Regions from separate parts of the Homo sapiens genome. Here region 1 is linked to region 2. The links come from fine-mapping of genetic effects on gene expression. A gene starts in region 2. The other region holds a variant in brackets. All regions are shown on one strand. Distances are between the middles of the regions.

Evidence for each region. PIP is the estimated chance that this variant, and not a neighbour inherited with it, causes the effect.
Region 1: its variant is the best candidate, but not a certain one, in a credible set for the expression of KLHL18 in skeletal muscle (GTEx, PIP 0.50).

What each region holds. Positions count from the first base shown.
Region 1 is chr3:47,258,694-47,263,076 of GRCh38, reverse strand. The region is part of intron 9 of KIF9 (kinesin family member 9); the gene reads left to right. Among named protein-coding and RNA genes, the nearest start is that of SNORD13J, 10 kb to the right of the region's middle. RefSeq lists an enhancer at 2,299-3,205. The variant C/T (reference allele first, on the strand shown) is at 2,367.
Region 2 is chr3:47,280,669-47,285,051 of GRCh38, reverse strand. It overlaps KLHL18 (kelch like family member 18), which reads right to left and starts at 2,108. Exons shown (of 10, transcript NM_025010.5): 1 at 1,958-2,108. The coding sequence starts at 2,086. KIF9 (kinesin family member 9) reads left to right here and starts at 2,253. Exons shown (of 21, transcript NM_182902.4): 1 at 2,253-2,557. RefSeq lists enhancers at 2,125-2,514, 1,730-2,929.

The DNA.
Region 1 (4,383 bases), 22 kb after region 2:
AAATACAAAAATTAGCTAGGCATGGTGGTGCATGCCTGTGGTCCCAGCTACTCGGGAGGCTGAGACAGGAGAATCGCTTGAACCTGGGAGGCAGAGGTTGTAGTGAGCTGAGATTGCACCACTGCACTCCAGCCTGGGTGACAGAGTGAGATGTCTCAAAAAAACAAAACAAAAAAACCCCACAAAAGACAGATTAGGAAAGCTATCATTAGACATTTTACTTTTCAAGTGTGGATGTTTAAGGCAAGCTTCAGTCACCTGGAGAATCTACTTAGGAGAAACAGATTATTTCCAAAGATGCTTCAGGGCAAGACATGCCTGCAGGGTCTCGCAGCTGTGTGCATTAGGGACTGTCCCAGCTTCCAAGGAGAGTGCTCCTGTCGTACATCCAGCACCCTGGGACTTGGGAGGCAGGGGAGGAGAGCTCCAGCTGACGTGCAGGCAGCATCCCCAGAGGAAGGCTTCTGGAACTTCTTGGTCTCATGGCATAAAATGCATGGTTGAGGCCAGGTGTAATGGCTCATGCCTGTAATCCGAGCACTTTGGGAGGCTGAGGTGGGCAGATCACTCCTTGAGGTAAGGAGTTTGAGACCAGCCTGGCCAACATGGTGAAACGCTGTCTCTAGTAAAAACATAAAAATTAGCAGAGTGTGGTGGCGGGCGCCTGTAATCCCAGCTACTTGGGAGGCTGAGACAGGAGAACCCTGGAGGCAGAGGTTGTAGTGAGCGGAGATTGGGCCACTGAACTCCAACCTGGGTGACAGAGCAAGACTCCATCTCAAAAGAAAAGAAAAAAAAAAAACAAAAAAACCCCGCATGGTTGAACCCAAGAAGAGCCATAAGAAATGGGCCTCCTGGCTGCCTTGTTAACAAAGATGCCCTCCAAGACAGTAGAAGCTCCCTGTCTCCCTTTATCCCCACCTCCTGTGATGGTTACAGCTCAGGAAACAACTCCTGGTACCCGCAGTCTCCGGGGGCTTGTGCCCATATACCACTTGGGTTCTCTGCCCAGGACGGAACCCAGAGCTCAGAGGAGCTGTTGGAGGGGTCTCAGGGGTTTGGGACAAAGGTATATTGGGGGTATGGAAGCTAATGATTGTCTCTTCCAAATGTGTTGAAACTTTAAAACTATTCTCATCATGGATTGTATTGCTTTATGCAGTGACACTGTACATGTGTGCTGAGTAACCACAGGGATGGGACATGGCCATACTTGCGGCTGTACTTGGAGTAGGAGAGTCTGACTTGGCCCTGCATAGAAGCAACACCACCTGTAATGACAGAGACGTCTTCTTGAGGGCTCGCTGTGAGCCAGCTCTGTACAGAGCGCATATACACCTTATCAAGGCAGCTCTCCCTTCACCTTACAGAGAAGATGTGAGATCTGTCAGTGGTCCTGCAGGGGGTCAGTGGCTGAGCTCTGAGCCACCAGAGTAGACTGCCCAAGGAAGAGCCCTTTCAGTCTTTCCTCTGGCCCACTTAGGGGCCAGCCACTCCTAGACTGCTTCCTCATTTCAGGATCATTCATTGAGAGATGAGACAGCCCAGCATGGCCTGAGGCAAGAATCTCTGGGCCTGCCTCCTGAGGCCCCTGGCTGTTCGTCACTGCCAAGGAGGAGCTCTCCACCCCTCAGCTAACATCCAAGCAATGAGGCATGGCATCTGGGCCTGCTCCCATAGCTGCCTCATAGGCCTCCAGCCATAATTATCCTTGGCTGGCTCCCCCTCCAGAGAGACTCTGCTGCGACCCCCCAGGCATCACTCTTAGTGTCCCGGGGACCCCAGAGTCCATTTTGGAGCATGCTTCTATGCAGAGATTTATCTTTCCTAGTGGTCTCATTTTACCTATTTTGCAAATAATCTCTATTCACAAGCAATGGGCCAAAGACACAGAGGCCAGTCAGCACACACACACACATTTTAGACCTCTGCTGAGTTGAATTTTTGGCCTTGTTACTGAGTAGCAAAGGCTAACGAACATTCCAATGCTTCCCTCCTTTCAGGTTCAACATTTACCAAACACCTACCACTTGCTGGCCTTACCTGAGAAACTGATTCCCCAGGCCCATGATTCCTCAAGGCCTTTCTCAGTTCCACTGCCAGTACCACTGAGCCTCCTCCCAGAGCACCCTGTCATTGTCTCAGTCCACCTGAGATGTTGACCTGGCTCTCGCCTCCCTCACACTTGGGGCGTACTGTCCCTCCATCAGGATGCACTTATCCCTTCCCCATCACCTGGCAAACTACTCCTCTGGCCCCTCCCAGGCCCCACCCAGGCACTAGGATGGGTTTCCTATTGGTCCTGCTCCCAGCTGTGAAGAGCACAGACTTGGGAGCTGGAGTGCCTGAGTTGAATTCCTGTGTGG[C/T]CACAGACCAGCTCTGTGGCCATGGGTGGGTGCCTTGACCTCCCTGTTTTTCAGTGTCCTCGTCTATAAAACTGGGTTGATGATACGTCTACCTTACAGGAAGTTGCGAGGATTAAATGAGCAACCACACTTCTACACTTAGAACAGAGCCTGGCCACAGCAAGCGCTGTGGAAGGGTTGGCCCTATCATAACTTGGCATGAGCTTACCTGTAGGGGTGGGTTGCCCCTACACACCTGTGGGTGTTTCTCGTAAGGTGGGACGAGAGATTTGGAAAAGAAAAAGACACAGATACAAAGTATAGAGAAAGAAATAAGGGGACCTGGGGAACCAGCGTTCAGCATATGGAGGATCCCGCCAGCCTCTGAGTTCCCTTAGTATTTATTGATCATCTGTGGGTGTTTCTCGAAGAGGGGGATGTGTCAGGGTCACAAGACAATTGTGGGGAGAGGGTCAGCAGACAAACACGTGAACAAAGGTCTTTGCATCATAGACAATGTAAAGGATTAAGTGCTGTGCTTTTAGATATGCATACACATAAACATCTCAATGCTTTACAAAGCAGTATTGCTGCCCGCAGGTCCCACCTCCAGCCCTAAGGCGGTTTTTCCCTATCTCAGTAGATGAAGCATACAATCGGGTTTTATACCGAGACATTCCATTGCCCAGGGACAGGCAGGAGACAGATGCCTTCCTCTTGTCTCAACTGCAAGAGGCATTCCTTCCTCTTTTACTAATCCTCCTCAGCACAGACCCTTTACGGGTGTCGGGCTGGGGGACGGTCAGGTCTTTCCCTTCCCACGAGGCCATATTTCAGACTATCACATGGGGAGAAACCTTGGACAATACCTGGCTTTCCTAGGCAGAGGTCCCTGCGGCCTTCCGCAGTTTTTGTGTCCCTGGGTACTTGAGATTAGGGAGTGGTGATGACTCTTAAGGAGCATGCTGCCTTCAAGCATCTGTTTAAAAAAGCACATCTTGCACCGCCCTTAATCCATTTAACTCTGAGTTGACACAGCACACGTTTCAGAGAGCACGGGGTTGGGGGTAAGGTTATAGATTAACAGAATCTCAAGGCAGAAGAATTTTTCTTAGTACATAACAAAATGGAGTCTCCTATGTCTACTTCTTTCTACACAGACACAGTAACAATCTGATCTCTCTTGCTTTTCCCCACACTTACCTACCCATTATCTGCCCCTTCTCTCACAGAATGAAGGGCTGAGCAAGCTGAGGCCACTCTGGGAGGTCCAGGCCCCAGATGTTGGATGCAGGGTTAGACATGATAGCCATAAGCCTTGCTGAAGGGAGGCTGAGAGAGCCCAGTACGCCTCCTGTCCTGACATGGCCTTGTGGCTTGGCAGCAGAGAGGTCCCTGAGGGAAGTGTATACAGGGGACAAAACTGGTAGGAGCCCATCTCTGTGCTGGCAGTGAAGCCTTTCAGCCCAAACCTGTGGAGACTCCCTGTGGATGGTGGGGAGGACACTTGACTAAGGCTGGTGGGCAGAGTCCAGGCTTCATTAACAGATCGGTCACGCCCCAGAGCAGCCTTTCTTAGCATGTGTGGCTAGAGGCCCCTGCCTCCAAATGCAGCAGAACTACCCATTCCCACCCAGACTGCTGAGTCTATTCATCAGGGGGCCTGAGCATCTGCCCTCCCAGGAATGGCTCAGGGGTGTCTTCACAGGGTAAAGTTTGAGCAGACGCTGCTCAGGGGCTAGACCTGCACTGGCCACTATGGCAGCCACTGGCCACATGTAGCTATGGAGCACTCAGATGTGGCTGGTCCTGACTGACATATAATGCAAGTGTAAAATGCACACCAGATTTCAAAGACCCAGCACCAAAAAAGAAGGTGTATTAGTCCATTCTCACACCTGAGACTGGGTACTTTATAAAGAAAAGAGGTTTAATTGGCTCATGGTTCCACAGGCTGTACAGGAAGCATGGCAGCATCTGCTTTGGGGGCGGCCTCAGGGAGCTTTTACTCATGGTGGAAGGCAAAGCAGGAGAAGAC
Region 2 (4,383 bases):
CACGAGGTCAGGAGCAGTCTGGCTAACGTAGTGAAACCCTGTCTCTACTAAAAACACACACAAAAATTAGCCGGGCGTGGTGGCGGGCGCCTGTAGTCCCAGCTACTTGGGAGGCTAAGGCAGGAGACTGGCTTGAAGCCAGGAGGTGGAGGTTGCAGTGAGCCAAGATCATGCCACTGCACTCCAGCCTGTGCCACACAGCGAGACTCTGTCTCAAAAAAATAAAAATAAAAGCAAAAAAACCGAGGCTTACAGAGATTAAGTAACTTGCTCAAGGTTACAACTAGGATTTTAATCCAAATCCTTCTGCTTTCAAAGCCATACTCAACCATCCTACTCTACCATCTCCAGAGGTCTGACTCAACTATGTTGCAGAAGAAAAGTTTCCTTAACCATGTAGAAAATAAGAAGAGCAGGCTGGGCGCGGTGACTCACGCGTGTAATTCTAGCACTTTGGGAGGCCGAGACAGGCAGACTGCTGAAGCTCAGGAGTTCGAGACCAGCCTGAGCAACATGGTGAAACCCTGTCTCTACTAAAAATAGAAAAAATTAGCCAGGGGTAGTGGTGCGCGCCTGTAGTCCCAGCTGCTGGGGAGGCTGAGGCAGGAGAATCGCTTGAACCCAGGAGAGAGAGTTTCAGTGAGCCAAGATAGCGCCACTGCACTCCAGCCTGGGCAACAGAACGAGACTCCGTCTCAAAAAAAAAAAAAAAAAGAAAAAAGAAAAGAAGAGCAAAAGAATCTCTGCATAGTTTTATTTTTTCTTTTATTTATTTATTTGTGTGTGTGTGTGTGTGTGAGAGAGACAGAGAGAAATAGGAGAAATAGGATCTTGCTGTGTTGCCCAGGCTGGAGTGCAGTGGTGTGATTACAACTCACTGCAGGCTTGACCTCCTAGGCTCAAGCGATCCTCCCACCTCACCCTCCTGAGTAGCTGGGACTACGGGCACAGGCTACCATGCCCAGACAATTTTTTATTATTTGTAGAGACAGGGTCTCCCTACATAGCCCAGGCTGGTCTCCAATTCCCCCACTCAAGTGATCCTCTCGCCTCTCAAAGTGCTGGGATTACAGGTGTGAGCCACCATGCCTGCCCTGTTTGTTTTTTAAACAGGGATCACGCACAGATGCTGAGAGCTTTCCAGCTAAAGCCCAACAGGGAGCCCCACTGATCATCTCCCCAACCGGACGTCTCCACATGGTTCGGTGGCTTGGCCAGGCAGCAGCACAGCATGCCTCTTCCTCATGAAAAGACCCAGGCACAGGAGGGAGGCTGGCTCTAGCGACCAGAATGCTGGTGGGGAACAGGTGGTTAAGATATCTTTCCCTCTTAATATCAGTCAGCATCCCTCTCCCCACGCGGCCAGCAGGCCCAGCCCCGGGGACCTTTGTGGTGGTGAGTGGTGCCTTCCAGTATGGGGCAGGGTGGCTTCCCACCTCAAAAATTTTCCAGAGAAGATTTTAAAAGCTCTTAAGAGACAAAGTAGTAATTCAACAATTAAGGGCAATGATTCCTAAGGAGAAGCCTTCTCTTCTAGAACAGCACAGCCAAGTTCGACAGGCACAAAGAAATATCTGTAGTGACAAGAGAAGGTTCTTCAGTGGTGCCCATCAGCATGTGGAGCCGGCCACCGCCCCTGCCTCCATAGAAGGTAAGTCCATTTTCTCTTGTCTGCATGACAGAAAAAGGAGGCTGTCACCCGTGTCTCCCACTCCAAGGGCCTAAGCGGCGCACCTCTCAACCTTTCCTTTCAAGGGCTGAAAGGTTGTCCTCTTCCTCTCCCCACTCGGCCCCGATCCCCTTTTGCTCGGCACCTCTCTCCCCACTACTCGGCCCCCCTCACACCTCTTCTCCCCACCCCTCTCCCTGCTAGACCTCTCTTTCTCTGTCCCCCGCCCCTTTTTACTCCCCGCTCGACCCCTTTTCCCTCAGCCCGCTGCCGCCCAGTCCGCGGTACCTTGAGGGTCACGTCGCACAGCTTGCCCTGCCGCCGGATCTCCTCCATGACGCCGTAGCCGCGACTAGGCAACTCAGACACGGAGAAGTGCACCAGATCCTCCAGCTCCTCCGCGCCGTCCTCCACCATCTTCCCCGGCCGCTGCAACTGCGCAGGCCTCGCCGGCCGGCTAGACACTAACCAGGGCGGGGCGATAGCGCACGCCGACAGCCGCTCGGAGCGCGGAGCAGCAATCGGACGGGCCTCCGCGGCCGCCGTAGTTGAATCTCCTCGGCGCCGGAAGCCCCGCCACTCCGCTTCCTGGTTCATGTGCGGCCTTCGTTCCCTCGCTATCTCGACCTTGACTTCGCATGTGCATCCGCCGAAGTCTTTCTAGATCAATCGGCCCCATCTCTCGTCTTCCCGATTCGGCCATGACCTCACCCGTATCCTCGACGTAGGACCTCGGACTTCATTTCCGCCACCCCGACACTTCCGGAATCCCCGGAAGCGACCCGTTGCCATGGCGACTATGTACACAGCCAGGCAGCCCCGCGTGGGGAGTGCAGGTGGTTTCGGTTGCGGCAGTCGCGTCCCGGGAGCGTCGCTGCCTGGTGAACGGTGAGCAGGGGCTGCTCGCCGGTGGGAGTGGGGAGACGGGAAAAGGGTGTGCGCCCGGACTGCTGAAAGTGGCTGGGGTCCAAAAACCGCTTTATCTGGGGGTTCCCAGCTGGGTCGCTCATCTCTGAAACCCAGGCGAAGGAGGGCTCGACGTCGCGGGAGTCCTTTCAACCTGACCGCGGCTTACGGTCTTCGGAGCTAATGTTCATTGGTCCCACAAAGGGGTCCCACGTCGCGTCCAGGACATAGAGGCCGTGAGGCAGGGAGCCAGAGGTCGTCTGGACTCTTCCGTACTAGTCAGTTTTCGAACTAGAGGGGGCTTTGGGATCACCAGTCGGAGCCCTTCGTGTTACAGGTGAGGAAACCTCTCCAGAGAGGGACCGGAATGGGTCCAAAGCCCACTGCCGCCCAGGCTCCACGCGGGGGTCCGGCACATTGGGTGAGAAAAAGGAGAAAGTCTAGTTTTGCCTGCATCCTAGTCTTGTTCAGCCAAGGCCAGGTGCAGTTGGACCCAGTGTTTTGGATTCGGGTGTTGGTGCTGCCGCTACGGGTAGCTATGAGGGTTCCCCATGACAGCCCCTCATCTGGACGGGAGCACTGGAAGATAGGGACCCACCTGGTGCCTTCCACCCCACCAAACGCTCCCTTTCCTCTTGTCTAGTCTTCATGGCTGCTTGTTGCCAATTCTGTTCATTCCCACTAAAGACAAATGAGGAAACCTCGAGCGCCTTAACACAGAAGTCTCCTGGTGGCCATTCAGAGACTTGCTTTGTTATACCAGAAATATCAAAGGGTGGTTCCCCAAGGAGAGACATTCCCCACAAGGTCCTGAGGGAGAAAGGGAGGGGGCCGGGCGCCGTGGCTCACGCCTGTAATCCTAGCACTTTGGGAGGCTGAGGTGAGCGGATTGCTTGAGCTCAGGAGTTCAAGACCAGCCTGGGCAACATGGCGAAACCCTGTCTCTACGAAAAATACAAAAATTACCCGGGCGTGGTGGTGCACGCCTGTAGTCCTAGCTACTTGCGGGGCTGAGGTGGGAGGATCGCTTGAACCCAGGATGTGGAGGCTACGGTGAACCGAGATTGTTTCACTGCACTCCAGCCTAGGTGACAGAGTGAGACCCTGTCACAAAAACAAATAAACAAAAAACAAAAACAAAAACAAAAAAAGCGTGTGGTGAGGTGCTGGATGTGGATTTTTGCACCTGGAAACCAAGTGTCCTCCTGGAAGGGCTGTGGGCTTTGGTTGGAGTTGTCATGGAAGGGGAGTGACATCATATGCCCCTTGGGACTCTCTCAGTAGTGACTGAAGATAGACCCACATATGAAGATTCAGCTGCCCTCTGACTTCCAGCCATTACCATCACCAACCACCGCCATTTCCTGAATACCTACTCTGTGCTGGGCTCTGCCCTGGACATTGTGAGGGGATTCAAAAGAGATAAAAAGCACAATCCTTGCCTTCAAGCAGCTTGTAATTTAATTTTGGGAACTGAAACCCACTCAAATGAAGCGACGTAAGAATGGTAACAAGCAGTATTTCAGTAAGTGCAAGATGGCATGGGGTCCCTAAATGTTTGGGTGTTAAAGGGCTGCTGAGTAGCAGGCTCACAAGACGGGTGTGCAAAGGAAGACTTTATTGCAGGTGGATATGGCTCCTGGCCTGCTTGGAGCCATGGTGTCAGCATGGGAGGGCCTTGGGAAGCATACATGGGGTGACTGCGTGTGCATGTGCATGTTGGCAAATAGCAGGGCAGAGAAGGGCCAGGCTCTGGAGGGAGAGTGATGCTTTTGCTTATTTGTTTTGTTTTGTTGAGACAGTCTCAC